Linked DNA regions of Homo sapiens. The protein of the gene in region 4 interacts with the protein of the main gene of each other region in a pairwise test. Each region holds a gene or a part of one and is shown on either strand. Other genes may lie near its edges.

The links.
Region 1: the proteins of DGAT2L6 (region 4) and TMEM143 interact in binary tests that used the Homo sapiens proteins (3 or more experiments, as listed by UniProt).
Region 2: the proteins of DGAT2L6 (region 4) and ABHD5 interact in binary tests that used the Homo sapiens proteins (3 or more experiments, as listed by UniProt).
Region 3: the proteins of DGAT2L6 (region 4) and ABHD4 interact in binary tests that used the Homo sapiens proteins (3 or more experiments, as listed by UniProt).

The regions. Positions count from the first base shown.
Region 1 is NC_000019.10:48,353,818-48,361,071, forward strand, and holds part of TMEM143 (transmembrane protein 143), read right to left. Parts: intron 6,360-7,254; coding exon 6,255-6,359; intron 1-6,254.
Region 2 is NC_000003.12:43,686,688-43,693,975, forward strand, and holds the start of ABHD5 (1-acylglycerol-3-phosphate O-acyltransferase ABHD5), read left to right. Parts: upstream 1-4,250; 5' UTR 4,251-4,305; coding exon 4,306-4,352; intron 4,353-4,410; exon of another isoform or gene 4,411-4,822; intron 4,823-4,829; exon of another isoform or gene 4,830-4,907; intron 4,908-7,288. UniProt on the Homo sapiens protein: Coenzyme A-dependent lysophosphatidic acid acyltransferase that catalyzes the transfer of an acyl group on a lysophosphatidic acid.
Region 3 is NC_000014.9:22,593,895-22,601,341, forward strand, and holds the start of ABHD4 ((Lyso)-N-acylphosphatidylethanolamine lipase), read left to right. Parts: upstream 1-4,405; 5' UTR 4,406-4,412; coding exon 4,413-4,435; exon of another isoform or gene 4,436-4,548; intron 4,549-7,447. UniProt on the Homo sapiens protein: Lysophospholipase selective for N-acyl phosphatidylethanolamine (NAPE).
Region 4 is NC_000023.11:70,172,686-70,180,712, forward strand, and holds the start of DGAT2L6 (diacylglycerol O-acyltransferase 2-like protein 6), read left to right. Parts: upstream 1-4,797; 5' UTR 4,798-4,897; coding exon 4,898-4,982; intron 4,983-8,027. UniProt on the Homo sapiens protein: Diglyceride acyltransferase that uses fatty acyl-CoA as substrate. Particularly active with oleate as a substrate. Has no wax synthase activity to produce wax esters.

The DNA.
Region 1 (7,254 bases), on a different chromosome or scaffold from region 4:
AGGAAGATGGAGACAGGGGTTGGAGTGACTCATCTACAAGCCAAGGAGCACCAAGGGTTGCTGGCAGCTACAGGAAGCCAGGAGAGACACCATAGATGCTTCCCTCTCAGGGCCTCCACAAGGAAACATCTTTTAATACATTTCACTTCTTTTTTTTTTGAGACATAGTCTCACTCTGTTGCCCAGACTGGAGTGCAGTGGTGCGATCTTGGCTCACTGCAGCCTCCGCCTCCCGGGTTCAAGTAATTATCCTGCCTCAGCCTCCGGAGTAGCTGGGATCACAGGCATGTGCCACCACACCCAGCTAATTTTTGTATTTTTAGTAGAGTCGGGGTTTCACCATGTTGGCCAGATTGGTCTCGAAATCCTGACCTCATGTGATCCACCTGCCTCGGCCTCCCAAAGTGCTGGGATTATAGGCGTGAGCCACCGCGCCCAGACTTTTTCTTTTTTTTTTTTTTTTTTGAGACATAGTCTTGCTCTGTCACCCAGGCTGGAGTGCAGTGGTGCGATCTCAGCTCACTGCAGCCTCCGCCTCCTGGGTGCAAGTGATTCTCCTACCTCAGCCTCCCGAGTAGCTGGGACTATAGGCACCCGCCACCACACCCAGCTAATTTTTGTATTTTCAGTAAAGATGGGGTTTCACCATGTTGGCCAAGCTGGTCTCGAACTCCTGACCTTAAGTGATCCGCCCACCTCGGCCTCTCAAAGTGCTGGAATAACAAGCGTGAGTCACTGTGCCCGGCCAAATTTCACTTCTGTACCTTGTTGCTGGTCTCTTCCTCAGTAGAACAGAGCCTGTGAGGTACATCTCTCATGCTGTCCACTGTCTCCCAGAGCCTCAAGCCATTCCAGAGACACAGTAGGTGCTCAATAAATATTTACTGAGCGAACTCAATGAATGAATGAATCAGCGAAAAAAGATCAGAGAGAGGTCACCCGCCAAGGTCACCCGCACCACTAGTGAACAACCAAGCTATTGTTTGAACCGAGGCTATGCTGCTTCTTTCCCTGCCCAGGCCACATCTTCAAAGGACTTAAGTCATCAGCAAATGGTCACCCAGCGGGCCTCACCCGCCTCTGCCACTTCTACCCTGCCCCTGCCTCTGTTTAAAATCTCCTGCCTGGGAGATATATGCTTATTCACTTATGTTCTTTCTACATTTCTATATATTTATACATTTCTATAATAAAATAGGCTTTTTTTAACTTTTTTTTTTTAAGAATCTTGCTCTGTCACCCAGGCTGGAGTGCAGTGGCGTGATCTTGGCTCACTGCAACCTCCACCTCCCGGGTTCAAGTGATTCTCATGGTTCAAGTGATTCTCATGCCTCAGCTTCCTGAGTAGCTGGGACTACGGGCACCCCCCACCACAACCGACTGATATTTATATATTTAGTACAGACAGTTTCACCGTTTGCCAGACTGGTCTCGAACTCCTGGGCTCAAGTGATCCGCCTACCTCGGCCTCCCAAAGTGCTCAGATCACAGACAAGACATACCAAGCCCAGCCTTAACTTTTAAAAAAATAGAAAAAGAAAAAAACAACCGTGGCTCCAGAGGCCATAGGTGCCCTGTGGAAGAGCTTGGAGGCAGGCAGACGGGGGCTTGATCTCGACTCCACCAATTATGAACTGTGTGATCCTGGGCACAACCCGGGCCCTCTGAGACATTCAGTTTCTCCATGTATGAATGGGCTGATGGCGGCTGTCTCTCCGCACTGCAGGAAGGAGTCAATAAGCCAGACACAGCAAGCGCTCAGCAACAAGGGGCTGTGATGGCCACTGTTGCTGGGGTTGTTATTATTCAAAGCAAAGTGCGGAGCTGCAGAAGGCAGTGGTGGGATGTGGCGAGGGGTGAATGCAGCAGGCCTGGGTTGTCCAAACCCCGCACATTCCAAAGAAAGGACCGGCCCTGGACCAGCTTCTGGGAGGGAACCTCTAAGCCCTTGGAATGTCCTGACTGATAAGAGTGTCTTGGTTTACCTGGGGCCTGGGGCCACACTGGATGCTGTGTGTTAATGTTGTCATCTATGGTCAGGGCCTGGAGCCACTGAGCATCAGTTTGACCTCGGAGGGGCTGGAGTCTCAGGTCAGCCACCATGCATATGTGACTGACCCCCAGTAAAAACCCTGGCCACCCAGGCTTACAGGAGCATCCCTGGTTGGCAGTACTGCTTGCGTGTTGTCACACATCTTGCTGGGAGAATTAAGTGCCGTCCATGACTCCACCGGGAGAGGACAGCTGGACGCTCACGCCTGGTCTGTCTTGGATTCTGCCCCATGTGCCTTTTTCCTTTTTTTTTCTTTTTTTTTTTTGGGATGGAGTCTCACTCTGCTGCCCAGGCTGGAGTGCAGTGGCACAATCTCAGCTCACTGCAACCTCCGCCTCCTGGGTTCAAGTGATTCTCCTTCCTCAGCCTCCTGAGTAGCTGGGATTACAGCTACTGGGATTACAGCGCCACTATGCCCAGCTAATTTTTGTACTTTTAGTAGAGACAGGGTTTCACCATGTTGGCCGGGATGGTCTCGATCTCCTGACCTCGTGATCTGCCAGCCTTGGCCTCCCAAAGTGCTGGGATTACAGGCGTGAGTCACCACGCCCGGCCCTCCTTTTTTTTTTTTTTTTTGAGACAGAATTTTGCTCTGTCACCCAGGCTGGATAGTGCAGTGGCAAAATCTCAGCTCACTGCAACCTCCGCCTCCTGGGTTCAAGCGATCTCCTGCCTCAGCCTCCCAAGTAGCTGGGATTATAGACATGCGCTACCAGGCCCAGGTAATTTTTTTTTTTTTTTTTTGAGATGGAGTTTCACTCTTATTGCCCAGGCTGCAGTGCAATGGTGCGATCTTGGCTCACTGCAACCTCCTCCTCCCAGGTTCAAGCAATTCTCCTGCCTCAGCCTCCCGAGTAGCTGGGATTACAGGCATGCACCATCACACCCAGCTAATTTTGTATTTTTAGTAGAGACGGGGTTTCTCCATGTTGAGGCTGGTCTCGAACTCCTGACCTCAGGTGATCCGCCCGCCTCGGCCTCCCAAAGTGCTGGGATTACAGGCGTGAGCCACAGCACCTGGCCTTTTTTTTTTTTTTTTTTTTTTTTTTTTTGAGATGGAGTCTCACTCTGTCACCCAGGCTGGAGTGCAGTGGCGCGATCTCGGTTCACTGCAAGCTCCGCCACCTGGGTTCAAGCGATTCTCCTGCCTCAGCCTCCTGAGTAGCTGGGATGACAGGCACATGCCACCACACCTGGCTAATTTTTGTATTTTTAGTAGAGACGGGGATTCATCATGTTGGTCAGGCTGGTAATTTCTGTATTTGCAGTAGAGACAGGGTTTCGTCATGCTGGCAAGGCTGGTCTCGAACTCCTGACTTCAGCTGATCCACCTGCTTTGGCCACCCAAAGTGCTAGGATTACAGGCGTGAGTCACCGCGCCCGGCAGTACTACCATCTATTAATAGATCCTCCCACAGCAGTTTCTCAGCCCAGACCTCTCCCTTCACCTCCAGATCCACATATTCAAGTCTATCTTTCTTTTTTTTTTTTTTTTTTTTTCTGAGACGGAGTCTCACTCTATCGCCCAGCTGGAGTGCGGTGGCGCAATCTTGGCTCACTGCAAGCTCCGCCTCCCGGGTTCACGTCATTCTCCTGCCTCAGCCTCCCGAGTAGCTGGGACTACAGGCGCCCGCCACCACGCCCGGCTAATTTTTTTTTGTATTTTTAGTAGAGACAGGGTTTCACCGTGTTAGACAGGATGGTCTCGATCTCCTGACCTCATGCTCCGCCTGCCTTGTCCTCCCAAAGTGCTGGGATTACAGGCATGAGCCACCACGCCCGGCCTCAAGTCCATCTTTCTACCTGCCTTTCTAAAAGGCAGCTCAATGGATAAAGAAAATATGGTCTATATACACCATGGAATACTACTCAGCCATAAAAAGGAACAAAATAATGTCTCTTGCAGTAATTGGATGGAGTTGGAAGGCCATTATTCTAAGTCAAGTAACTCAGGAATGGAAAACCAAATAGCCGTATTCTCACTTTATAAGTGGAAGCTAAGTAAGCTATGAGGGTGCGAAGATACACAGAGTGATATAATGGAATTTGGGGACTCAGGGAGGGGGGTTGGGATGGGGGTGAGGGACTACATATTGGGTATAGTGTACACTGCTCTAGTGATGGGCACACCAAAATCTCAGAATGCACCACTACAGAATTCATCCATGTAACCAAAAAGCACATGTACCCCAAAAACTACTGAAATAAAAAATGTTTTAATTAAAAAAGAATGGGCCAGGCACGGTGGCTCACGTCTGTAATCCCAACACTTTGGGAGGCCAAGGCAGGTAGATCACGAGGTCGGGAGTTTAAGACCAGCCTGAGCAACATGGTGAAACCCCATCTCTACTAAAAATACAAAAATTAGCCAGGCGTACTGACACACGCCTGTAATCCTGGCTATTCGGGGGACTGAGGCACAAGAATCACTTCAACCCGGAAGACAGAGGTTGCAGTGAGCCAAGATCGCACCATTGCACTCTAGCCTGGGCAGCAGAGTGAGACTCTGTCTCAGAAAAAAAAAAAAATATATTAGAATAAATAAATTCATAAATAAATGGTAGCTCAAATTCTTAAGTCCAAAACTGAGCTCTCAGTCCTCCCTGCAGATCTTTCTCCCCATCCCACCACGGTCTCCCCCATCCCAGTAAATGGCAGCTCCATCCTCCAGGAGGCTCAGGCCAGAACTGCTGGAGACGCACCCCTACTCCTCTCTCTTCCTCCCCAGAACACCCCCACAGCCAGCACATCAGCAAAACGCTGATGCCTTCCAACATAACCAGCATCTGACCGTTTTTCACCATTTCCATCGCTATTACCCTTGTCGGAGCTTCCATTATCTCTCCCCTAGACAAATATAATAGACTCTTTCATAGATGTCCCTGCCTCTGATAGTCTGTTCCCTACACTGCAGCCAGAGAAATCCTGTTAACACCTAAATCCGCTGCTCACATCTCTCCTCAGCTCAGAGCCCTCCCATGGCTCCCGGCTCACTCAGAGTCAAAGCAAGGTCCTCGGCCTGGCACAGTGGCTCACGCCTGTAATCCCAACACTTTGGGAGGCCAAGGCGGGTGGATCACTTGAGGTCAGGAATTCAAGACCACCCTGGCCAACATGGTGAAACCCAGTCTCTACAAAAAGTACAAAAATTAGCAGGGGGAGGTCGTGGACGCCTGTGGTCCCAGCTACTCAGGAGGCTGAGGGAGGAGAATCGCTTGAACTGGGGAGGCGGAGGTTTGCTGTGAGCTGAGATCGCACCACTGCACTCCAGCCTGGGCAACAGAACAAAAACTCCATCTGAGAAACAAAAACAAACAAACAAAAAAACAAAGCAAGGTCCTCACAGTGGCCCACAAGGCCCAGTACGATCTGTCCCCATCCCCTCTGCCCTCATATCCCACCCTCCCCGCACATTCACTCTCCTGCAGCCACAGTGGCCTCCTCACTGTTCAATACTCCAGGCCTCCACTCACCTCAGGGCCTTTGCACTTGCTCTTCCATCTGCCAAGAACATCCTCCCCCAGGCATTCATCAGGCTCGTTCCCCCTCTTCACTAAGCCTTTAGCCCACATGTCACCTCCTTGGGGAGCCCTTCCCCACCCACCCCGTCTGAAACAGGCCCCATCTCACCCCTCTTTGTTTTTTTTTTTTTTTTGAGACAGAGTTTCCTCAGTCGCCCAGGCTGGAGTGCAGTGGCGCAATCTTGGCTCACTGCAAGCTCCGCCTCCCGGGTTCATGCCATTCTCCTGCCTCAGCCTCCCGAGTAGCTGGAACTACAGTCGCCCCCCACCACGCCCAGCTAATTTTTTTGTATTTTTAGTAGAGACGAGGTTTCACCGTGTTAGCCAGGATGGTCTCGATCTCCTGACCTTGTGATCCACCCGCCTCAGCCTCCCAAAGTGCTGGGATTACAGGCGTGAGCCACCGCGCCCGACCCATCTCATCCCTCTTTATCTCACTACTCCGCCTCATTGTTCATGGCACTTATCACCACCAGGCATCATATTTTATATTTATTTGATTCCTTGTCTCCCCACTTGGAATGTTGGCTCCATGAGGGCGTCACTTCACCTGTCATGTTCACTATTGAATCCCCAGCACTTAAAATAAGGGCCAGGCTCCAAGAAGGTGTCAGGGAATGTTTGCTAAATGAGCGGATGCTCGAACAAGCACCACAGGGCTGGAAGGGCCCCGTCCTCACCTGCAGCCGGGCCAGGATTTGGTGGTAGTGGAACAGGGTGCAGAAGTCCACGTGGGCCGAGAACGCCTCCAAAGCCGCCTTCTCTGCCGGACTCGAGTGGAATTCCTGTTACCTCAGGAAGCAAAACTTCTCTGTAGGCCTTTTCCCCTTCCCCGAGGGAAAGAATTCTTTCCCTGGCTGCCTAACTACACAATCAGAGCTCTGGACTTTGAAGTTTTGTTCTGGGGCTGGGCGCAGTGTCTCGCACCTGTAATCCCAGCACTTTGGGAGGCCGAGGCAGTGGATCACTTGAAGTCAGGAGTTCAAGACCAGCGTGGCCAACATGGTGAAATCCTGTCTCTACTAAAAATACAAAAATTAGCCGGGCGTGATGGCATGCACCTGTAGTCCCAGCTACTCAGGAGGCTGAAGCTGGAGAATTGCTTGAACCAGGGAGGCGGAGGCTGCAGTGAGTCGAGATCGTGCCACTGCCCTCCAGACTAGACAACATCAAGACTCTGTCTCAAAAAAAAAAAAAAAAAAAGTTTTGTTTTGGTTGGGTGGGGGCTGACCAATTTTACTGAAACTGAGGCAGCCAAATATAGTGAAAAACTATACTGGGCTTAAAAAGCTGGAGGTTCAAGTTTTTGCTTTGACATTTCCTAGCCAATACACACACACACAATTCCAGGAACGGTTTGACAGTGTAATATCATCCTCCAGAAGTAGATGGAATTATTATTATTATTATGTTGAGACAGAGTCTCGTTCTGTCACCCAGGCTGGAGCTCAGTTGTGCAATCTCAGCTCACTGCATCTTCAACCTCCTGGGATGAAGCGATCCTCCCACCTCAGCCTCCTGAGTAGCTAAGACTACAGGTGCCCACCACCATGCCTGGCGAATTTTTTTCAATTTTTTGTAAAGGTGGAGTCTCACTATATTGCCCAGGCTGGTCTGAACTCCTGTGCTCCAGCAATCCTCCCACCTCAGCCTCCCAAAGTGCTGGGAGGCTGAGCCACC
Region 2 (7,288 bases), on a different chromosome or scaffold from region 4:
ATTCAAAATTCAGTCACACTAGCCAAATTTCAGATCCTCCACAACCACATGTAGCTAATGGCTACTGTATCAGAGAGTGTGGGTCTAGAACATTTCCATCATTACAGAATGTTCTAACAGACAGGGTTGCTCTAGAGCTCATTACTTAAAGGGTAGTCTGCTGATTGGCAGTAGGAACACAGGCATAACTAGGAGCTAGTTAGAAATAGAGATCTCAGGTTCTACCTCAGACCTACAGAGTCAGAATCTACAATTCAACATGATCCACAGAAGTCTGCATGCAAATTAGAGTCCAAGAAGCCCTAAAGTCATGTGATTTTTTTTTTTTTTTTGAGAAGTCACTACAGCTGATTGATGTTCAGGCCCTTCCCTTGACCCAGCTACCACTTTCCCTTATCATCCTGTGTCCTTCTTATTATCTCCCTGCCACATTTGCTTTCTCAATATGTTTTATTACAGCATTTCTTTATAAACATTTACAGGCTGGGCATGGTGGCTTACGCCTATAATCCCAACACTCTGGGAGGTCAGGAGTTTGAGACCGGCCTGGGCAACACAGTGAGACCTGTCTCTACCAAAACCAAAAAATATTTACAAAGCAGCCAGGCCATTGAAGCCCTCATAAAACATCCCCTTCTCCATGCCCTCACTCTCATTCTGGTTTGTAAGTGCTTGCTTGGCAGGCTTGTGATAAAGGCCCAGGCCCCTGTGATGGTTGTGGTATTGCTCAGCACTTTGCCTGGGGAACTACTATTGGAGGGCTGGAAATTAAAGCCAACCTGAAACCCAGTGGGGCACCAGTCATCAACCAAGTGTATGGCACACTTGGTCTTGGTGGGACAATGGCAGCATTCAGTCTTTAGGCTACAACCCTGGGGCAGAACATGCAGAGCAAGCTCTGTACTTGCTTTGGTCAGTGTCATATCTGGCCATCTGATTGGAGAGTACAAAGTAGGTACTGGCGATCTCCAAATGTAAGCACTGCTCAACCAGGTAATTGGTTAGTAGGTCACAAAAAGGAAGTTAATTTGGAGGTAGGGGACCAAGCTGGCCTTAAACTCTGAGAGGTCTGCTTTCAGGGTACCATCAAAGTTCAGGGAGGTAGTGATGGAGGAAGTCTGGTCCAAGCAGTGGTTAAAGTATGTGGGGCCCTGGGGGTATAGGTTGCAATGACATGTGTTGGTCCATTGTCTCCCAAGAAGACACAGTCCAAGGGTTCCAGGGTGGCACGGTGGTCAGGATAGAGTTGTAGGGTTCCACCATTGCTGGCAACACCCAGGGGATAGGTGGATGGCCAATTCTAGCTTGGATTTCTTGCCATTGTTGAAGATGACTCCATCAGCAGCAAGGTGAAGCTAGAACAGAGCTACTCCCAGAGTTGAGGAAGATCATGAAGTCCTGTAGTCCTATGCACTGCTTGTCAGTTTCTGCATAAACTCTAGTATTGGATCAATGGTCTCTTTCTCTCTTTTTTTCTTTCTTTTCTTTTTTTGTGACTGTGCAGCAGGCACAGGCATCTTTGAGAGCAGACTCCAGGTCCATAAAGACCAAAGCGCTACAGGAGTTGCTGCAAAATCCTAAGGTTTCATTACTGGACTCAGTACCACTGGGCTTGCACTGTGTTCCAGGCGGTAGGGTCTTCAACAGACACTCTGAGAGGTGGGATTGTAGGGCATCAGTTTCTGCAGACACACTACAAGTGTCTGGCAACACTATTGTGGAGGCTAAAGTAACTCCATCTCAGATGCTAATCCACAATGTTGATTTCTGAGTAACCCCAGTTTTGGGAAGGCCTCCAAGTTTTCTACTTTATCTATTGTTCCTTGTATAAGAGCATGTGACAGGCTGTTCTTACATTGTTATAAAGAAATACAGCTGGGCGCGGTGGCTCATGCCTGTGATCCCAGCACTTTGGGAGGCAGTGGAGGGAGGATCATTTGAGGTCACGAGTTCAAGACCAGCCTGGCCAACATGGTGAAACCCCATCTCTACTAAAAATACAAAAAATTAGCTGGGCGTGGTGGCGGGTGCCTGGAATCCCAGCTACTCAGGAGGCTGAGGCAGGAGAATTGCTTGAACCTGGGAGGTGCAGGTCATAGAGAGCCAAGATCATGCCACTGCACTCCAGCCAGGGCAACAGAGTGAAACTCCGTCTTAGAAAAAAAAAAAAAAAGAATTACCTGGGACTGGGTAATTTATAAAGAAAGGTTAATTGGCTCATGGTTCTGCAGGCTATACAGGTGCTGGTATCAGCTTGGCTTCTGGAAAGGCCACAGGGAGCATTTACTCACGGCAGAGGGCAAAGCGGGAGCAGGCATCTTACATGACTAGAGCAGGAGCAAGAGAGTGAGGGGTAGGTGCCATACACTTTTAAACAACCAGATCTCACAAGAACTTACTATTGCAAGGACAGCATTAAGGGGATAGTGCCAAATCATTCATGAGAAATTCACCCCCAGAATCTAATCACCACCCATCAAACCCCACCTCTAACACTGGAGATCACAATTCAACATGAGATTTAGAGAGGACAACACCCAAATTGTATCAGAGCACATACTTACCTACCTGCCCTTAGGTCAAAACAACCTTAGTCTGGGAGGGTAACAGCACAGAGATTTACCTGTCTTGCTGCTGTCCAAGACCATGCTTCTGTCCGTAAGTTCCCTAATAAATCACCTTTTGCTGACAAGCTGGATTTGTCTCCTTCATTCTTTAGTTTCTCAGCTCCTTCTGTATTTGGAGGTCACTTTGAATATACGGCCCTTTCATGAAACAACCAGGAATTCCTGTAAAAATGTTTTTTATATGTTCTGGTCTTCCCTAAAATATTTTATGAATTAGATCAAACACAATAAAAAATGTATTAGTTATTACTATGCCTAAGAGATTATAAGTGGCTTTCCCCCCTCTAAATTACAGAAGACACCATTCCTATCCTAGAGGACTTTCTCGTGTAGTTGGAAAGATATTCGATAATGTTTATTTAAAAGCTGTAACAATTACACAAGGCTGAGAACCTGAGAGCTAGATGGGTGATAAAGACAGGTTTACAGTGGGGCTCAGAGGAGAGAAAAAGAGGGAGGAGAGTCAGGGAAGGAGAACAATGAACTGAGTCTAAAATAAAGGTTAATATATTCGCGTAGGATCTATCAAAACAGGAGCAGTATTTCAACCCATTGTTTTCAAGCACCTAGAACAAAGTGAGCCCATAGTAGACACACACCAAACATAAATGGATGAGTAGTAGTGGGTGGCAGAATTCCAAAAGCAGGTTGCACCTGATTGCTAAAAGGCTTGAAAACAGGTCAAGAAATACTGCTATTTAGGTTAGTCATTTCACCTCAATAACTCGAAGTACCTAAACATAGACTTTTTTTTTTTTTTTTGAGACGGAGTTTCGTTCTTGTTGCCCAGGCTGGAGTGCAATGGTGCGATCTCGGCTCACCGCAACCTCCGCCTCCCGAGTTCAAGCGATTCTCCTACCTCAGGCTCCCGAGTAGCTGGAATTACAGGTATGCGCCACCGCGCCCGGCTAATTTTGTATTTTTAATAGAGACGGGGTTTCTTCAGCTCAGGCTGGTCTCCAACTCCCGACCTCAGAAAATCCGCCCGCCTTGGCCGCCCAAAGTGCTGGGATTACAGGCCTGAGCCACCGCGCCCGGCCAACACCGACTCTTTTCACCCTCCCAGGTATCTAGAGAGTCGAGTGGGAGGGAAATTGCTGGCTCTGGCCACTACAGTAACATCAGCACCTAGAGCAGTGCTCAACTGACTGAAGGCTCCTGTGAGTCGCCCTCTCCCCCTGGCCCCCCAACCCGCGGGGAAAGGCTGGCGGGACGCCACACAGCACCTCGATTACGCCATTTCATTTGCCACTGCACCATCTATCGGACACTAGCTAGGCTCTTCCAGGACCGGACGCACCTCCGTCCCCAAGGTGCCACCTGACAGCCAACACCGACGGGGTGATGCATGAATACAGTCATTATTCAAATTAGCTAAAACACCTAACTCATTCGGGTGAGTCTCGCCAGTCCCTCTGGGCTGACTGTCCCGCCCCGCGCTTACACCCGGGAGCGTCGGGCGGGAGAACTAGTGCATGCTGGCTGGGGATGGCGGACGCAAAGCCGGAGGCAAGGCCGCGCACGCGCAAACGCGGGCGCGCCGCCGGGCCGTGCTAGTGCGCGGAAGACGCATGCGCTGGCGGCCTGCGCCGCCTTAAGTGCCGCGCCAGCCCGGGGCGGCCCAGTCGGCCTGTCAGCCGGCTTCGAGATAAGTCCCGGCGCTTGCGCGGCGGCGGCTATGGCGGCGGAGGAGGAGGAGGTGGACTCTGCCGACACCGGAGAGAGGTAAGCGCAGCCGGCAGGGGGCTTCGTGTGTCTCCGGCGCGCACCCTCCGCGCGGGCCGGGTTAGGGCCCAGCGGGCAGCACCAAGGAGTCGCCGCCCGCCTGGCGACGACGGGCGGCTTCCTCGACCCTCCCCGGCATGAGTCCGCGCGGCGCCCAGAGGCGTCCCGGCGCCGCTCTGCCTGGGAGAGGCTCCCCTCAGCGTCGGGGCCCCGAGGTGTCTGAGCCGGACTCCGGCCGCGCCGGGAGGCCGCCTTGACCCCGCGCGGAGGGTCCGCCCCGTTGTTGTATAAGCCACCCCGCGGGCCGGCGACGGAGCTGGCCGCGGCGGCCGCACCGGCTCGGGCTCTGCCAAGGGACCCGGCCTGCCCCAATGCCGCCGGCGGGCGGTGCCCGGTCGACCCTGCACCTGACTGCGAGGCGCGGGAAATGACCGGGTCTGTCAGCCTCCCATCGCGGCTTCCGTCTACAGGTACTACCTGTGCTCTGTCCAGCCTCAGCCACTGGACGATCCTTCCCGTAGCCGTAGGAAGGGGCGGCGCTTCCTTGGAGGGGATATTAGAGGCCCGAATTCGCCCGGGAAGCGGCGGGAGGGCGGGGGTGCCGGGAAGGAGGGAGGGGAGAAGGAGTGAGGGAAGTGGGTGTATGGCTGTGAGTTTCAGATACTTCATAGAAAGAAAGTTAGCCCTTAAGATAGAGATACACGTTCAAATGTCATAATTCATCTTTCGGATGAAGGTCTTTGGCTTGCAAGCTCCACTGTCCCTTATTTGTTTGCGCTTCTGGGATTATTCTGGCTTTACTGGCGAAGTGTGTGTTGCATGTGCCTTAGAAGAACACACATAATGTATAGGAAACTGTGGAAGTTGGAGGGCAGATGTCTAATGTGAAACTTTTTTATATACAGGTATAGTGAGTTTATTCTTTTCTACACCTAAATGACTTCTTGCACTTGTTAGTAGAAGAATAGTAGTTAATGAGTGGAATAATTAAATTGTTATGGAGGTTATTGCCTTGTTTCTCAAGGCCTGTCGTTTGTATTGGAAAGTAAACTTCCCCCATATATATTTAATTTTTTGACGTCGGTTCTACTTCAGACGTCTGGAGAAATTTGCCTAGGAAACATAACCTAAATGATAGAATATGGAGTACCATGAAGACAGGGATATTTGGAAAGATGTCATGGGGAAAAATTGTGAAATATTAGAAAGGAAGTTATTCTCTTGAGTTTTGTTTATTTGTTGAGGTTTGTTGATGAACTTCCTCGTTGCACTGAGGTGAAATGTTGAATGTCATGTGGACGCAAGTAGGAACGTAATTGGTAGGTTGTGTTCTCATCTTGTTTGTCACAACATTTTTGACTCTTGACACTACTTTCAGGTGGACTATTTGGTTTTGATGTAGTGGGGCCTTGGAGTCCAGGACACAATCGTGAAAGGGTTTTATGGCTTGGAGTGATGGTTGGAGGTCATTGGAGGTAGATGATTAAAAAATCCTTAGCAGCTGATCAGCCATAGTTTCTAGACAGAAGTGGGCTTCGCTGGTATTCTTGGCAATATGCTTTAGCAGTGTCCAGTGACTATCCCCAGAAGTGATCCTGTTAAATCCAAGGTTGCCCCTGTGTGCTGGGTATTATTGTTCCCATTTTGCAGTTGAAACTGCCACTGTAAAGGCTGCTAACAGCCTGCCAGCAAGTAGCAGGGCTGGATTGGAACCCTTTGTGGAACCCTTTGAGGTGTCTGGATTTAATCTAAGGTGCTTACCCTGTATCCCTGCTGCCTGTCACTGGAATTGGGACTCATGTGGGATGTTTGGCTCTTGTTTGAATACAGTTCCCTACCCTTAAGACATTTGAGGTTTAGATAGGGAGATAACATTAACAAAGGAAAGTTATAAAATGGTCATCTGATGGCTTTTTGGAGAATATGATTCTTGTCCTTTGCTTTGTGGCACTTAGTGAAGACAGGCATACTGGGATCCATTTTGCTTTCAACATCCAACCCCTTTCAGTTGCAATACAGTTGAGAAAGCTAAATGTAATGAGAGTAGAGTAGACTTCTGTGAATTGCTTTAAGTTGTCCTAGAGAATGATTTAGTGTCAATTGAGTTGAGAGAAAGCTGTCACAGAATTGCTCAGTTGCAGGGTAGACCATAAAAGAGGTGATTTGCAGTTGTGTGCTGGAGTTGATTTGTACCAGCAAGCCATTGCTAAATTTTCAGGAATTTTGCCAACGGTTGGCAGCTTGAAATTGGCCATGGTGGGAGTATTTACACCACGGAAATCATCAAATGCTATAAATAAGGTATAAATAAGGGATTTTTCTCTCCCCTCCCTGCTTCAGTTTGTTTGCCAGCTCCCCACTGGGTTTACATTAGACTGTGAATGTAGGTCTTTGCCTTGGAGATAGGAGAGTGGATTTCTCTATCTAATCTTTTTAAAAACTGGCAAGATATGTGCCTTTCTCTCTGCTGCCTTCTCTCCTTCCCAAACCTTTGCCACCTGATATCTTAAAAATCACAAAACTTTTCACTGCCACATCCCAATGGCCTTCTAGTTTTTTTCAGTACTTCTTCTTGGGTCCTTTTTGGTGTTTGTTACTGTAATGATAGCTACTACTTTTTGAAACTCTTATTAGACATTCTAGGTCTTAATGACATTTTGCCTTTTATCTTACCTTACCTGACCAACAATAACTTTTATTAGTTTCTCCTCTTTTTTTTTTTTTTGCATTCTCTAAATGTAGTCATTTTCCAAGATTCTGTCATCATCCTTGTTTTTATTTTTCATCTTGTTTACTCAAACGTGAACTGTCTTGTCTGTGGAGATGACTCAGATCTCATTTTCTTTCTGGAGCCCTCTTCTGTACTCTGGTAATGTTTCTAATTGTCAGATGTTTGTGCCTGATTCCTCAAATTTAACATGTCCAGACCATGATCT
Region 3 (7,447 bases), on a different chromosome or scaffold from region 4:
CGCTGCCTAGACAGAGCTGGTTCATCAAGACTGGGCAATTAGAATGGAGAAAGAGTAATTCATACACAGCCAGCTGTGCAGGAGAACGGAATTTTATTATTACTCAAATCAGTCTCCCCAAGCATTCGGGGATCAGAGTTTTTAAGGACAACTTGGTTGGGGAAGCCAGTGAGCCACGAGTCCTGATGGTCGGGGAAGAAATAATAAGGAGTCCAAGCTGTCTTCTTGCCCTGAGTTCCTGGGTGGGGGGCGCTGCAAGATCAGATGAGCCAGTTCATCAATCTGAGTGGTACCAGCTGATCCATCAAGTGCAGGGGTCACCAAATATCTCAAGCACTGATCTTAGGAGCAGTCTAGGGAGGGTCAGAATCTTGTAGCCTCCAGCTGCATGACTCCCAAACCATAATTTCCAATCTTATGGCTAATGTTAGTGTTACAAAGGCAATCTAGTCTCCAGGCAACAAGGAAGTCAGCCCCGGGAAAGGGCTGTTATCTGTCACAAACCACAAACTATAAACTAAGTTTCTCCCAAAGTTAGTTCAGCCTATGCCCAGGAATGAACAAGGACAACCTGGTTAGAAGCGAGATGGAGTCAGTTAAGTTAGATCTCTTTCACTGTCTCAGTCATAATTTTGCAAAGATGGTTTCAGATTTGTCAAATTAATTTCCATCCACACTTGTTGGAGTCTCATACTTGCTCATGGTGTGCTTTGTCCTGATGATAAGGAGAAAAAAAATAACTTACATTTTCTCCCCAGAGGCCTGCCTTAGAGTAGGCTCCGAGAGTCCTCTTTACTCTGTGTAATTCTAGCAGATCCGTCCTGATCCTGAGATACATCAGCACTGGGGATACCTTAAAAACTGTGGTAACTTTGGTTATTAAAGGCATTTTCCATCCATTCAAGTTTCCTACTTCCAAGAAACCTCTACTTTAAAGCTGATTTCGCACATGAAAACAAAATACAAACACTTCTCTGCACTCCTGAGAAATGGTCTAGAGAGATCTAATACCAGTTCATGTGTAGTCGTCCTTGCCTAAAAAAATCTCACAACTTACAGGTTTTCAGAAAAGTGGGAGATTTTATTGTCCTGTCTGGGAGTGATACAGTATGGAATTTTCTATTTGGTACAATTTAGAATGTAGCTCCCAAAGCCTTTGACACTTAGTATATTGTTTCATAGGTAATTGTTTATGCTTCTGCCTCTTCACTAGACTTTTCTTCATTTACCCAACAAATATTGAGTGCCTACTCTGCCACACTTTGTTCTAGGTGTTGGGAGCACAGCAGATAACAAGACAGAGAGGGTCCCCCAGGAAATTTATTCTCTAGTGGAAGGAAACTGATAATAAATGAGTAAAAACAATGCAAGATAATTTCAGATAATGTTATGTGTTATGAAGAAAATAAAAATAGGGTAATGTGACAGAGTGATGGGGGGCTCTCTTTAGATCCTGTGGTCAAGAAATGCCTCAGATGAGGGGAAGTTTGAGCTGAGCTCTGAATACAAAGTTATCAGCTCTGCAAAGCCAAGAACAGCCTAGGGTAGCAACAGATAGAAAGTCTGTGTTTACCACTAGAGCAGGTTGTTTATTTCCTTTTGATAATTGCTTTTATTTATTTTTTCTTTTTTTAGAGACAGAGTCTGACTCTCACCTAGGCTGGAGTGCAGTGGTGGGATTATAGCTCACTCTAACCTCTGACTCCTAGACTCAAGTGATCCTCCTGCCTCACCCTTCGGAGTAGCTGTTACTTTTGGTGTGCATTGCCATGCCCAGCTAATTTTTTTCATTTTTGTAGAGATAGAGTCTTGCTATGATGCCCAGGCTGGATAATTGTATTTTTAGTGCTCAACATAATTCTTGGCATTGAATAACAGCAACAACAAAAATAAGTAATATTCGTATCACAAATAAGTGTACCACATGTTTATTTGAATTATCTTGGTTAGTTCTCACAAGATACAAGCCAGAGGAAGAAATTAAGAGATGCTAAATAACTTGGCCAAGGATTTACAGTGGATAAGTGGCAAAGCAAATACTGAACTTAACCAGGCTTCATGACTCCAGAATCTATACTTCTAACCAACCAGTGAGTCTCGTGGAGCACCAGTATCTGCGGTGCTTCCTAAAAATGCGGCTTTCTAGCATCAAGCCAAACCAGCTGAATCTGAATCTCAGAGGGTAGGTGCTAGAAATCTGAATTTTTTTTTCCAAGATGGAGTCTTGCTTTGTCCCCCAGGCTGGAGTGCAATGGCACGATCTCAACTCACTGCAACCTCCTCCTCCCGTGTTCAAGCAATTCTCCTGCCTCAGCCTCCTGAGTAGCTGGGATTACAGGCACGCGCCACCACACCTGGCTAATTTTTGTATTCTTAGTAGAGATGGGGTTTCACCATGTTGGCCAGGCTGGTCTCAAACTCTTGACCTCGTGATCCATCTGCCTCGGCCTCCCAAAGTGATGGGATTACAGGCGTGAGCCACCATGCCCAGCCCAGAAATCTGAATTTCTAATAAATCCACCAGATGATTCTATGCATACTGAAGTTTAGAACCACTGTGCTTTGTTGAAAGATTGAACGAAGCCAAGTTTGTTGGCTCACCCCTGTAATCCCAGCACTTTGAGACCCCAAGGCAGAAAGATAGCTTGAGCCAAGGAGTTTGAGACCAGCCTGGGCAAAATAACAAGACCCCATCTTTACAAAAACTAAAAAAAAAATTAGCTGGGCACATGTAGTCCTAGCTACTTAGAAGACTGAGGCAAGAGGACCCCTTGAGCCCAGGAGTTCAAGGCTGCAGTGAGCCATGATCATGACACTGCATTCCAGCTTAGGTGACAGTGAGAATCAGTCTCAAAAAAAAAAAGGTTGCATGAAAGAGACAAGTCCTCTGCTAGTTGAACTACTTTGTACCACATCTGGCAAATTCCTAAGCCCCTAAACTCTATAAATGCTGGTTCTCCTAAACGTTAAGTCTTTATAATGATCAGCTTAACACTGTGTTGCTACAAAGAAGAAATCTCAGAATCATCTGGGTCCTGCAGGAAGGCTAAAGAAAAATGCTTTGATAAACCCCTGTGCACCAGCATTCTCTCACCCATCCTCCACCACTCCCCAGTCTGGTTTTTTTTGTTTGTTTGCTTGTTTGTTTTTGGTTTTTGAGATGGAGTCTCACTCTGTCTCTCAGGCTGGAGTGCAGTGTCACAATTTTGGCTCACTGCAACCTCCGCCTCCTGGGTTCAAGCAATTCTCCCTGCCGCAGCCTCCCCAGTAGCTAGGATTACAGGTGCCTGCTACCACACCTGGCTAATTTTTTGTATTTTTAGTAAGAGATGGGGTTTCACCATGTTGGCCAGACTGGTCTCGAACTACTGACTGCAAGTGATCCACCCACTTTGGCCTCCCAAGGTGCAGGGATTACAGGCGTGAGCCACCGCGCCCCACCCCTAGTCTGGTTTTAACTAAGGGGATGATCTGAAATCTGACAGTTCCAGGGAGGTCAGGCCCTGTTTACCGGTACAAGCAAATTCAGCAGCCAGCCTCAAGATTTAGCTCCTCTGCTGAGCAAACTGAAGTGCACTCAGGACCTCTGGGCCAAGCCAGCCTTATCTCCCTGTCCCCGCATTTACATACCGAAAGGAGACCTAGCCTTATTGGTGAGTCCTTCAACTGTTATCCTCCAAACTGAGGGTGACCTGGAGTTGAGCTATATTTTCCCTGGAAAATAGGTTGGGGTCAGAGTCAACATCAGAGCAGAGATATGCCCATTTTGGCAGATGTCATATAGGTTTAGGTTTGCCAGAGAAAATACAGGATGCCTACTTATGTCCCAAATACTGCATGGCCCATACTTATTCTAAAAAAGTATTTGCTTTATTTAAATCTGGAATTTACATTTAACTAGGTGTCCTGTATTTTAGTTTCGAAATCTGGCATCCAGGCCCTTTGTAGGAGCATTCAACCAATGGCGTTGTCTCCACAAACATTTAAGCCTCTTACTAGAAGGAACATTAACAAGGGTCGATTTCAGGAGGACACAGTTACAATGGGAAGCCCAAAGAGTGGGTGCGAGCGTGCAGGCGTAGTTCTACCACTTTTTAGTTATGAGAGAAGGGAGGGCTGTCGGAGCTCCTGCAAGGACTCCCCCAAATGTGTGACCAGGATTACTGTCCCATTCTGAGACCGTCAGAGACATCTCTGCCGGGACACATGCCAGTGATTGAAAACACAGCAAGGGCCCCACTAGCTGAAACCAAGTTGCAGAGTTTTGAGGGTCCCACCGCCGACCGCCGGCCCGCCGCGAGCCCTGCCCCCTGCGCGGCCACGCCCCCTTGCTCCCCGCGGCCTCCCGGGTCAGCTGGTGCTGGCGTCAGGCGCTGGGCGGGCTCGCCAGGACCTGGCAAGGCTTGTTTACTATGGCCGATGATCTGGAGCAGCAGTGAGTTAATCCTGTCCCTTTCTCTCTTTCTCTCTCTCTCTCTGGGCCATGATCCTGGGACTGTCTGTGGCTGAGGAACAGTTGTAGACACCTTCCCGCTCTTCCTTTTCCAGGTCGGCCTCCGGGGAGGGCGGGGGGTGGGTGCGTTGCTTGCTTTGCATTTGCCCAGAAGAGGCAGCGGCTGAGCCTGGGGAGCCATGGGAGACGCGCTCGCCCGCAGCCCGGGGATCCTGGCTTTCTACCTTAGTCCTCGCGAGTGCCCCTCATTCTCCTCTGGCCTCTGGAGAGATTCCATGTTGATGTGTGAGATCCCCGAAAGCAAGCTTGTGGGACGCGGGTGCGGAGGTAGCAGCCAGGCGTGCTCGTCTCGACTTGCCCCCCAGAACGGCAGTCGTGGGGATGGAGAGAGCCTCCTCCCTCCGCCCGGCAAAGAGAAGATGTGGAGAGACTGGAGAGGTCTCCATCGCGCTGAAATTGGTGTGGAACAACGGGCTTGCAAGTTTCTTTAGCTGTCGCCCACCGAGACACGTAGCCGCATGTGATCCTAGTTGATAATGCTTTTAATAATCGTAACAACATCTTTAATGCAATGGTTTCAGATTTAGAGCTATTGGGATTTGCTACCACTCTTTCAAGGGCATCAGGTTTGGGATACCACCTGTAGGTGGTGTGACTAGCAGTTCGCAATCTGATAGGAGTAAGAAAAAGTTGCTACGAGAAGAATGACTCAGCTCCCAGCCGAGCCTTGGTTTCACCAGAACTGGGCCTTTCCTGGACCCAGTAATCCTGTTTTTCAGACCTGTAGAACTGGAAGTCCGGGGAACTAATTAACTTTATGACCATAATTAATAGCTTGCTGGGCTTGAAAGAAATGTCCAGGGGAATGTTTTACTTTCTAAGATGACTTTTCCAAGAGGAAATTTGCAATGCTTTAAAGGACTTAGGGAGGCAGAATATTAGAGCTGGAGGACATGCAGGTAGTTCAGCTCCTTTTTAAAAATGAAGAAGCTGGTGTCCATAGAAATTAGGAGACTTGCCCAAGATCACAGAGGTCTAGAACAGGATTCTCTCCCAGCACAGAACCCCTTGTGCTTCACCCCCATCAAGTTGACAGAGACCGTCCTAGCCAGGTTAAGTTCATGGCTGAATGTCTTTTCTGCTCCTTGCCTCAATTTCCCACTCCAGCCCTTACCTCCCGCATAGTTTTGAGCACATACAGTGTGCCAGGCACCATTTCCAGTGTTTACTTGTAACATTTTTGGTGAAGAAGGAAAGCAAAGTAATTCTCCCACCAAGGACTCTCTGCTGAGCAGTCTATGATGCTGTTCCTTGGGTAGCGTTTCTCCTGAACTCTGCTTTGTACAGTAACAGGACAATGTGGGATCCAGGTGTTATGATCTGACTTGTCACAGTCTGTGATTTAGAGAGAAAATTTGTCTCTTAAGGCTGACAAAATCCTGTGGTCTTGGTCCCCGTGCTTCAAGCCTACAAGGAATTCCAGTAGAATATTAAAAGGATTCTGAGTCTCCCTAGGATTAGATCGATTGATATTGACAACTCTCATCTGGCTAAAACCATTGATGTATCACTCCCAGCTGCAACCCCAGTTTTTCTTTCAAACTTCAAACATCCACTGAGAGTTGCTACTTGCAAAACACTGGGAATGTAGACAACTTATGATTTAGCTGGGGGGAAAGAAAGTTGATTGGGAGTTTGTGCTAGGCAATATTCTATGTGCTTTAGATGCATTAACACTTTTAATCTTTATAGCAACCCTATGAGGTAGATATTATTACCTCCCTTTTAAAGATGAGGAAGCTCTGACACAGAAAAGCTAAATAATGTGCCCACAGTCACATTGCTGGTAAGTGACAGTGCTAAAATTGGAACTCTGGCCTTCAGAGTTTAGATCACACCTCCCTTGAGAAAACAGACATAAATGTAAAAATGTGGTTATGTTCTGTGAATATTTGTACATGACCTTGAAAAGCTGAGGCTGGAAGGTTCAGGGAGAGAAACCTGGATTTGAGATAAGGGGCTCTAGTTCTGGTTCTTTTTTTCTAACTTGTATGACCTCTTTGGGCATCAGTTTGCTCATCTGTAAAATACAGAGGCTAGACTAGTTGATTCCTAAGGAAACATCCTAATTTAAAATTCTGTGCTTCAAATGATGTATCAGGATGCCCAGTGTGGGCCAAGGGGATTTGGTCATGGTTCCCCTCACTCCCCCTTAGAGTGCCCTACCTTGAATATGCCAGTGTTCACAGGCCCTTCCTATAGCTGTAGATATCTGTCCTGTAACTCAGGCAGAGTTCAAGAAAAGAGAAATATCATATGGGGTTAACAAGGAATAATACAAACTGTCATTCATTGAGCATCTCATTTGTACTGGGCATCTTACAAGTGTCCTTACATATACAGATGCTCAAAGACAGGTTATTTAATGGGCCAAAACCATTCTGCTCATCAATGATAACACTATGATTCACGTCCAGCAGGGGGGTGTGTGTGTGTGTGTGTGTGTGTGTGTGTGTGTGTGTGTGTGTGTAATTCCAAAGCTGGTGCTTTTAACCTCTACCTTGCAATGACTTAAGGTCCCTGGGTATGAAGGAGAAAACGGGATGAGTTATCTGTGTTACCGCATGTCATTAGAGGTGAGGACATAGGTGAGCTTTCTACTCATTTTACAATCTAGAAAACAAGACCAGAGGGAACCTGTGTCCTGTCAGTGAACCATAACAGAACTTGAATCCAGGTCTCTCACCTCCTCCTCCCTGCCTACCCCATCTCCATGGGTTGGACTGATTGATTACCTGAGAGATCAGTTGGGCACAACACAGTATTCCACACTTCTAGGGGCTTGGAAGAGGGCATACATAAACACCAACCAGTGCCCTGCCAGTAGGGCAGATGGCATGGGAATTTGTCCTACTGTTAAGGAACAGCTAGTACTGGGGACAGCAAAGGATAACTGAAACATTAGTTAAAAGATGCCTCTCCCTTTAATCTCCT
Region 4 (8,027 bases):
GCCAGTCAGGTTGATAGGATGCTGCTATGGGCAAAGGCTCAGAATAGGAAAGGACACTTCCGGTTTGGGGAACTAGGCTGTATCTGGTGTGGTGTGAAAGTGATGGGAAATGAGACTTTCAAGGAGGGTGGAAACCAGTGTTTCCCTTTCTAGGGCTCTGGGTCCAGGTCCTGGGGTCTGAATTGGATCCCAGAGGCAATGGAGCCTTTGGAGTGTTTGAAACAAGGCAGAGAGACAGTAAGAGCTGTGTTTGACAGCAGCCCCTCTAACTGCAGAATGGAGACCAAAGGAAGGGAGGCAAGCAGGCAACAACCTGCTGTAGTCCAGGAGACAGTGACAAGGGCCCAAACTAGGGGGACCGACTGTTCCAGTTTGCCCAAGATTATACCAGTTTTAGCCCTGGAAGTCCAGCATCCTGGGAAACTCCTCATCCCAGGCAAACTGGGAGGGTTGGCCACCCCTCCCCCAAGACCCTGAACCAGGACACTGGAGGCCGCTGTTCCCTGGGGCCTTGCCTGCCATGAGAAGTGATCCAGTCACTACTGCTTCCAGGGGATTTTAAACGTCCCCTGTTCTGCCCTACCCTCCATCTCCACAGGCCCCTCGTCCCACCACCACTCCTGGGTCTACTTTCACTGGATTCTAGACCTAGAATCCAGTGAAACATAAATCTCTTTACGTATCTAGGCCTCCAGATACGTAAAGAGATTTGTGAGGAAATCAGCTCCACTTATCGCTTTCCAGCCTTCTCTTCTTCTACTCCCCTCCACCAACCTGAGACTCCTATCAAACTAAACCACCCCGTGTGCCAAAGCAAACCTCTGGTCTTTTGTGTATGCTGGGCCACTGTAGGAAATGTCATCCTCCCCACTTCTCAACCTGTTAGAGCACATTGCAAATACTCCCTCCCCACAGCTGAATAGGAGCGCTAGTGAACAGCTCCTGGATGGCAGACACTGCACGAGAAGCTTTTCAAACACTGCCACTACATCTCACAGCAAAGAAATAGGATGCATCCTTTTTACCAGATGAAGAAACCAAGACTCAAAGAGAGGAAGTGTCTGGTCCAAGGTCACACAGCTGCTAGTGTTCGTCTCTGTCTCCTTTGGAATTCTCTGATGGCCCCAATCCTTGTATTGATGACATATGCACTTCTTTCATTCCCTGTCCGTGCCCCCTGCCCCATAACCCAACACACATGCAATTGTAAACCTAGAACAATACCAGACTTAGAGTAAGTAGGGCCTCAAGAAAAATTTGGTGAATGAAGGGATTAGGTACACTCCTTCTAGAATACCTAGCCTGGTGCTTGGCATTAAATAGGTTCTCCATTGTTGTTGTTTAAGACAGGGTCTTGCTCTGTCATCCAGGCTGGAGTGCAGTGGTACATTCTTGGCTCACTGCAGTCTCGACCTTCTGGGCTCTAGAGATTCTTCCACCTCAGCCTCCAAAGTGAGTAGCTGGGACTACAGGTCTGCACCACCATGCTCAGCTAATTTTTGTATTTTTAGTAGACACAGGGTTTCACCATGTTGGCCAGGCTGGTCTCAAACTCCTGGACTCAAGTGATGCGCCCACCTCAGCCTCCCAAAGTGCTGGGATTACAGGCGTGAGCCACCATGCCTGGGCCTAATGTTTTCAATTGAGCTGAAATTGTAATACCTAACCATATAAGGGTATGACAGAGGGAGAAGATCAGAAGAAAACAAATTATGGCAAAACCTCAGCTATCCAAAGCTGTCTGGAAATGAGTCATTCCAAAGGCTGAGGGTGAACCTTTGAATCAGAGCTACCCTTTCTGAATCAGAGCTTTGAATCAGAGCTACCCCTTCACTTCCACCACCCTTTCTGAGCTCTCTGGTCCCGGTCCCCTTGATCTGTTTCCTTCCACTTTTCTCCTTTCTTTGTTTTTCTGTTGCTCCTTTGAAGTTTCTTTGGGGTCCAGCTTATCACAGCCCCGTTTGATGAGCTCACGGCCGTCTCTTGGACTGCCCGTCCAGGCCTCTCTCGCCTGATCCATTTCTCCTCACTGCAGCAGGCCCTCTTCCACAGACCCCTCCCTCACCTCCCAGGGCAGGCAGGTGCTTCTCTCGTCTGTGCAACCCACAGCACCCCATGCAGGTGTCTGCTTTTACACCTACTTCCAACACTGGACTGTGAGTTTCTTGAGGGTGGGAATCACGTCAACCTTCAATGTCTACAAATGAAATTGGCAGGCCCTTTGTGCTCCTTGGCAACCCTTCCTTCTTTATTGCTTACTCTGAGGCTGCCAAGCTTCTGCTTGTTGGTTGATGAATTGTAACTGGGAAATCACGAGTGCTGGATGTTCAGGGTTTATCTGCTAGCCTAATTATCTTCTTCTTGCTCTTTCTTTGTTCACTGATGTTTATGTTATACTTGTCCATTTGGCTCAAGAGAGCTCCAGCTGGGCCAGCGTGCTCTGTCTTTGGGAGCAAAGGGTGGCCAATCTGGGTCAGTCTATCTTGCCTGAGGCATCAAGAGACCTGGTCTCCCTCACAGGTTCAACAGACATTTACTTGAGTGCCTGCTCTGCACCAGACCCTGACCCAGATGTTAGGGAGACAGAGGTAGAAAACTGTCTGGCCCTGTCTGCCTCTGGTTCCTGCATCACCTTGAGCCCTTTCCAGATCTCCTCCATTCACCCATCTGAAAGTGGAGGGGAGCGGAGACCTGATCTGTAAGGGGCGTTGGAGCTCTTGATACTGTGGATCTCGTCTGGCCTGGGCACTCTAAGCCCCTCCATATCTCTGCTTTCCCTGAGCAGAGCCAAGCCTGCCTCTCTTACCTCCCTCCCTCCTCCCGTGCAAATTCTGAGCAGATACGCTCTGATACATCTCACCTTCTATGTGGTCAAGCAGCCCCAAGAAGCAGCTGGAGAACCCCAGCTAGCCCAAGGGGAAGAAAAGAAAGAGGAGGAAGAGGAAGGTGTCGCATGTCAGATGACCATCTAGTGCACACGGGGGAGTGAAAGCACACCCTGACATACCAGAAAAGTTCCCCAAGCTCAGCTCTGAAGAGTCACATTGGTCAGTCTAATGCGGGAAGCCCAAAGCAGAGTGGGGGTGGGGAGATGACAGAGTTCCAACAATCTCCCTGGAAAAGGGACCAATGCCCCCTTGCACTTATAGAACCCTTGATACCATTTTTGTATCTCATTTTCCCAGCAACCCCTTCAGTTATGTTTAACAGATGTTTTTGACTACCTTCTATATTCAAGGCCTTCTGCTGGGAGTACTGGGCTTTTCCTGTAGGACACATTGCAACTTCAAGTGTACAGACATTTTATCTTAATTTTATTTTATTATTTATTTATTTACTTATTTTGTAGAGATGGCATCTCGTTATGTTACCCAGGCCGGTCTGGAGCTTCTGGGCTCAAGTAACCCTCCCGCTTCAGCCTCCCAAAGTGCCAGGATTACAGGCATGAGCCACCGCACCCAGCCTAACATTTTTGTGATTTTTTTTTTGTTTTAATGTCTGTCTCCTCCACTAGACTGTAGACTCAAAGAAGGCAAGAATCATGTCTGTCTTCTTCCCTACTGAATCCTCAGCACCTAAACACAGTGCCTGGCAAACAGCAGTCACTCAATAGATAGTGACAGAAAAAATATATCCAACATGGTGAAACTCTCTCACTACTAAAAATACAAAAACTAGCTGGACGTGGTGGCGCACGCCAGTAGTCCCAGCTACGCAGGAGGATGAGGCAGGAGAATCACTTGAACCCAGAAGGCAGAGGTTGCAGTGATCCGAGATCACGCCACTGCACTCCAGCCTGGGCGACACAGTGAGACTCTGTCTGGAAAAAAAAAAACAAACGAAACAAACAAACAGAAAAAAAACGGTCTGAGACCTGGGAACAGTCTTCAGTTTTCCAAAGGCTATTACACAGAAGCAAGCCTCAGCCTGAAACATATGTTACTTGTTCAATATGTGTTACTTGAACTCAGTGAGTAGTAATGACAGGAAACGGTGCCAGGCTGTGTGCTAAGCACTTTATATTCATTCACTTATCTAATCCTCAGAACTACTCTAAGAAGTAGGTACTATTATAGTCCCACTTTTACAGATGGAGAAACTGGGGCATAGAGGTTCACCACCTTGTAAGTGACAGAGCTGAGATGTGAACCCCAGCTATCTGGCTCTAAAGTCTATGCCCCTAACCTATATTACATTCTAGCAATGAATGCTCAAACTGAGCTCTAGAGAGATGTAACATTTTCCAAAGGTGTCACAGGAAGAGCATGGCAGAGCTGGGACTGGGAGCCAGGTCTTCCTTCTGTGCAATGTTTCTCCCGCTCTATGATAAGGTATCTGGCCACTGAGGCAGGTCCCTTGGGACTAGAGGCACAAAGAGGGATCTGAAGAGTCTATTAACAGATATCCGGTGCAGAAAAACAGCCCCAGTGGGCTAGGTGACTCAGCAGAAGACAAGAGGAGACAAAGGGTAACCACTAGGGCAGGAACAAGTGTGGCTGCCAAGTCCCTTTTCTTAAGCAGGGAAAGGTAGTGGGGTGCTTTTCGGAGGTCCTATTTGAGGCCCAAGATACTCTCTTCCTGCGCTGATTTATCAAGAGTGCCCCTCCCCCACAGCTAGAGCCGCCCCAGGGCCATTTCTGCTTCATTACAATTGGGCACACGTGGAGAAAGGATACTACTGGGGAGATCAATTATATTGCCTGATCTGCAACCTGATGTGTGGGTAGGAAGTTGGGGCGGGGCAGTGGAGGAAAAGTTTGGTCAAGCCTGACAAAACCCCAGCAGCTAATCTTACTCCACAGTAAGAGATTATAGCAAAGCATCTATAATCAACTCAGCTTAAGAAGTTTTGACCTTCTGGTTAGGCTTCTTGCCACAACAGAACAGCACCATAACCATGGCTTTCTTCTCCCGACTGAATCTCCAGGAGGGCCTCCAAACCTTCTTTGTTTTGCAATGGATCCCAGTCTATATATTTTTAGGTGAGTGAACCCCAAGGGCTGGAGAGCACATGGGGAACAAACCAAAAGAGTGGCCAATCTCCAGATGAGGAGGGTTCCAAAGAGATCATCTGGGTGATCTCCACCCTCTGGGAAGGATCTGGCTGGCACAAAGGCCAGGAGTGAGGCTGCAGCTGTTCTGGTTTAAAGATTACTCCAGGCCAGGCACGGTGGCTCAGGCCTATAATCCCAGCACTTTGGGAGGCCGAGGCAGGTGGATCACCTGAGGTCAGGAGTTTGAGACCAGCCTGGCCAACATTGTGAAATCTCGTCTCTACTGAAAAAAAAAAAAATACAAAAATTAGCCAGGCATGGTGGCATGCACTGGTAATCCCAGCTACTTGGGAGGCTGAGACAGGAGAATCACTTGAACCCGGGAGGTGGAGCTTGCAGTGAGCCAAGATCGTGCCACTGCACTCCAGCCTGGGTGACAGAGCAAGACTCCGTCTCAAGATGAAAAAAAAAAAAAAATCACTCCAGTCTTCTCAGGAGCTGTCCCCTATGAACTAGCTGAAAAGAGTCATATTCAGGGACAGGGCAGAAGTGGTGGTGGCTTACAGAGTTGGTGTTACTAGGTAGGTGTAGGGTGATTTTCTAGTCTATGGTTATGGTGAGACAATTCTGGAAAATCTGAGGGCTGCCTGAGTGACATCTCAGACAGAATTTTGAGAAAGAGCCAGTTGTTCTGTGGACTCACAGCACAGAAGTCAACAATGTTGGGCCTCTCCCACCCAAGGCTCTTCTGAGGCAGCTTTTTTTTGTTGTTGTTGAGATGAAGTTTCACTCTTGTCGCCCAGGCTGGAGTGCAAACGGCAAACGGGCTGACAGCTCCAAGATTTTCCCTGCCAGAAACCAGGGATTTGGGGGTGGTCAATTACAGGTGCAAGCTTGAAAACTGGATGAGGAGAAATAATGTCATCCTGAAGGATGAGACAGGTAGGAGACAGCTGGTTCCAACCCATGGGAGGCTATATGACCCTTAGAGCAGAGGCTCTCAACCAGGGTCCTATAGACCAAAAATTCAGGGTGGATGGGGGTTACTTTGAATTGGGATGAATAAAACTGCCTCTTTCTTTCCACTAACCTCTAACTGAAATGTAGTATTTCCTTCAATGATGAATGTAGGCAATAAACCACGAAGTGTTAGGAGTACCTGTGAGTGTCAGTAACAGACATCACAGAGATTTGCATTTCATATTATAGTTGTTGCAGGCATCTCGAAATTTCATTTATGTTCACGACTACTTCAAAATTCCAGTAGTTATTGGCACTGCTGTTAGATCTGGTTATTTAATGCATACATCAAGAAGCACATATGTTACTATATTATATTGTGGGTAATATTTTGATAACTGAATTTTAATATAATGGGTTTCCTTTGTAAATCTGCGTATTTTATTTTGTGCATTTAAACATATTATTCAGAGAAAGGGTCCATGGCTTCACCAGACTGCCAGAGGGGTCCACAGCCTTCTCAAAATGCAGACTTATTAAGCCTTATTAAAATCAAAACATGCTAAGCCCATTGATGGCTTGACTTTAGCTATATCGAGAGAAGAAAGTCATTTTGTTAGTAAACTTAGTTGTTTCTAGACTTTCATAGTTTCCTTTTGTTTTCCTTTGCATTTCCCCTAACTTCCTCAAAAAGACCCCTTTGATAAGTTCTGACCCTCAGCCAGGAAAGTGAGGAGCACAGGAATGTCCTAAGAGACTTGCTATTGGGGTGGCAGCAACCGTGTCAAATCCGGGTCCCAGAAAGAGTGGGCAGAGATGGGGCAGAGAGAGCAGGGGAAAGAGGTCAAGAGAGGATGAGCTATGTGAGCGGGTCCTTTTAGGTGTAGGGCCTGTCCCACCCAAGAATGCTCTTCTGAGGCAGCTTTTTTTTTTTTTTTTTTTTTTGAGATGGAGTTTCACTCTTGTCGCCCAGGCTGGAGTGCAATGGCAGGATCTTGGCTCACTGCTACCTCCGCCTCCCGAGTTCAAGCGATTCTCCTGCTTCAGCTTCCCGAGTAGCCGGGACTACAGGTGTGTGCCACCACGCACAGCTAATTTTTGTATTTTTAGTAGAGACGGGGTATCGCCATGTTAGCCAAGCTGTTCTCAAACTGCTGACCTCAGGTGATCCGCCGACCTAGGCCTCCCAAAGTGCTGGCTGGGATTACCGGCATGAGCCACCGCGCCGGGCCGAGGCAGTGTTTCTAATTAAAATGTACTCATTTTTCTGCCAGAAAATGATACTTTCTCATATATATTTTTCTCTATTTCATTTCCCCTCTCAAAGGACACTGTGTCCTGCTGGGTATAGGGTAGAGAGTGTATCAGACAACTGGATATGTGAGGGACCAAGAAGGTGAGGATTAGCCTCCAAGTAATGCCCCTTTACCCCCAAATCTCAACGGTTTCTAGTTGTCCCAGAAGAGCTGGAGGAGTGGAGTGGGGATGATACCTATGGGTCTTCAGTGGAAACACATAAGAATAAATGGGGCCAGGTGCGGTGGCTCACGCCTGTAATCCCAGCACTTTGGGAGGCCGAGGCGGGTGGATCACAAGATCAAGAGATCGAGACCATCTTGGCCAACATGATGAAACCCCATCTCTACTAAAAATAGAAAAATTAGCTGTGTGTGGTGGCGCGTGCCTGTAGTCCTAGCTACTCGGGAGGCTGAGGAAGGAGAATCACTTGAACCCGAGAGGCAGAGGTTGCAGTGAGCCAAGATTGCGCCACTGCACTCCAGCCTGGTGACAGAGCAAGACTCTGTCTCAAACAAAAAAAGTAAAAAATAAAAAATAAAAATAAAAATAAAGAATAAACGGGATTTTTTTTCACCTTCATTTTTAAAAGTTATTTTTATTGTGGTACAATACCTAGAACATAAAATTTACCGTTTTAACCATTTCTAAGTATGCTCTAAGTACATGTCATTAAGTACATTCACAATGCATGGCCACCATCCATCTCCAGAATTTTATCTTCCCAAACTGAAACTCTGTATCCATTACACAATAACTCCCTAATTCCCCCTCCCT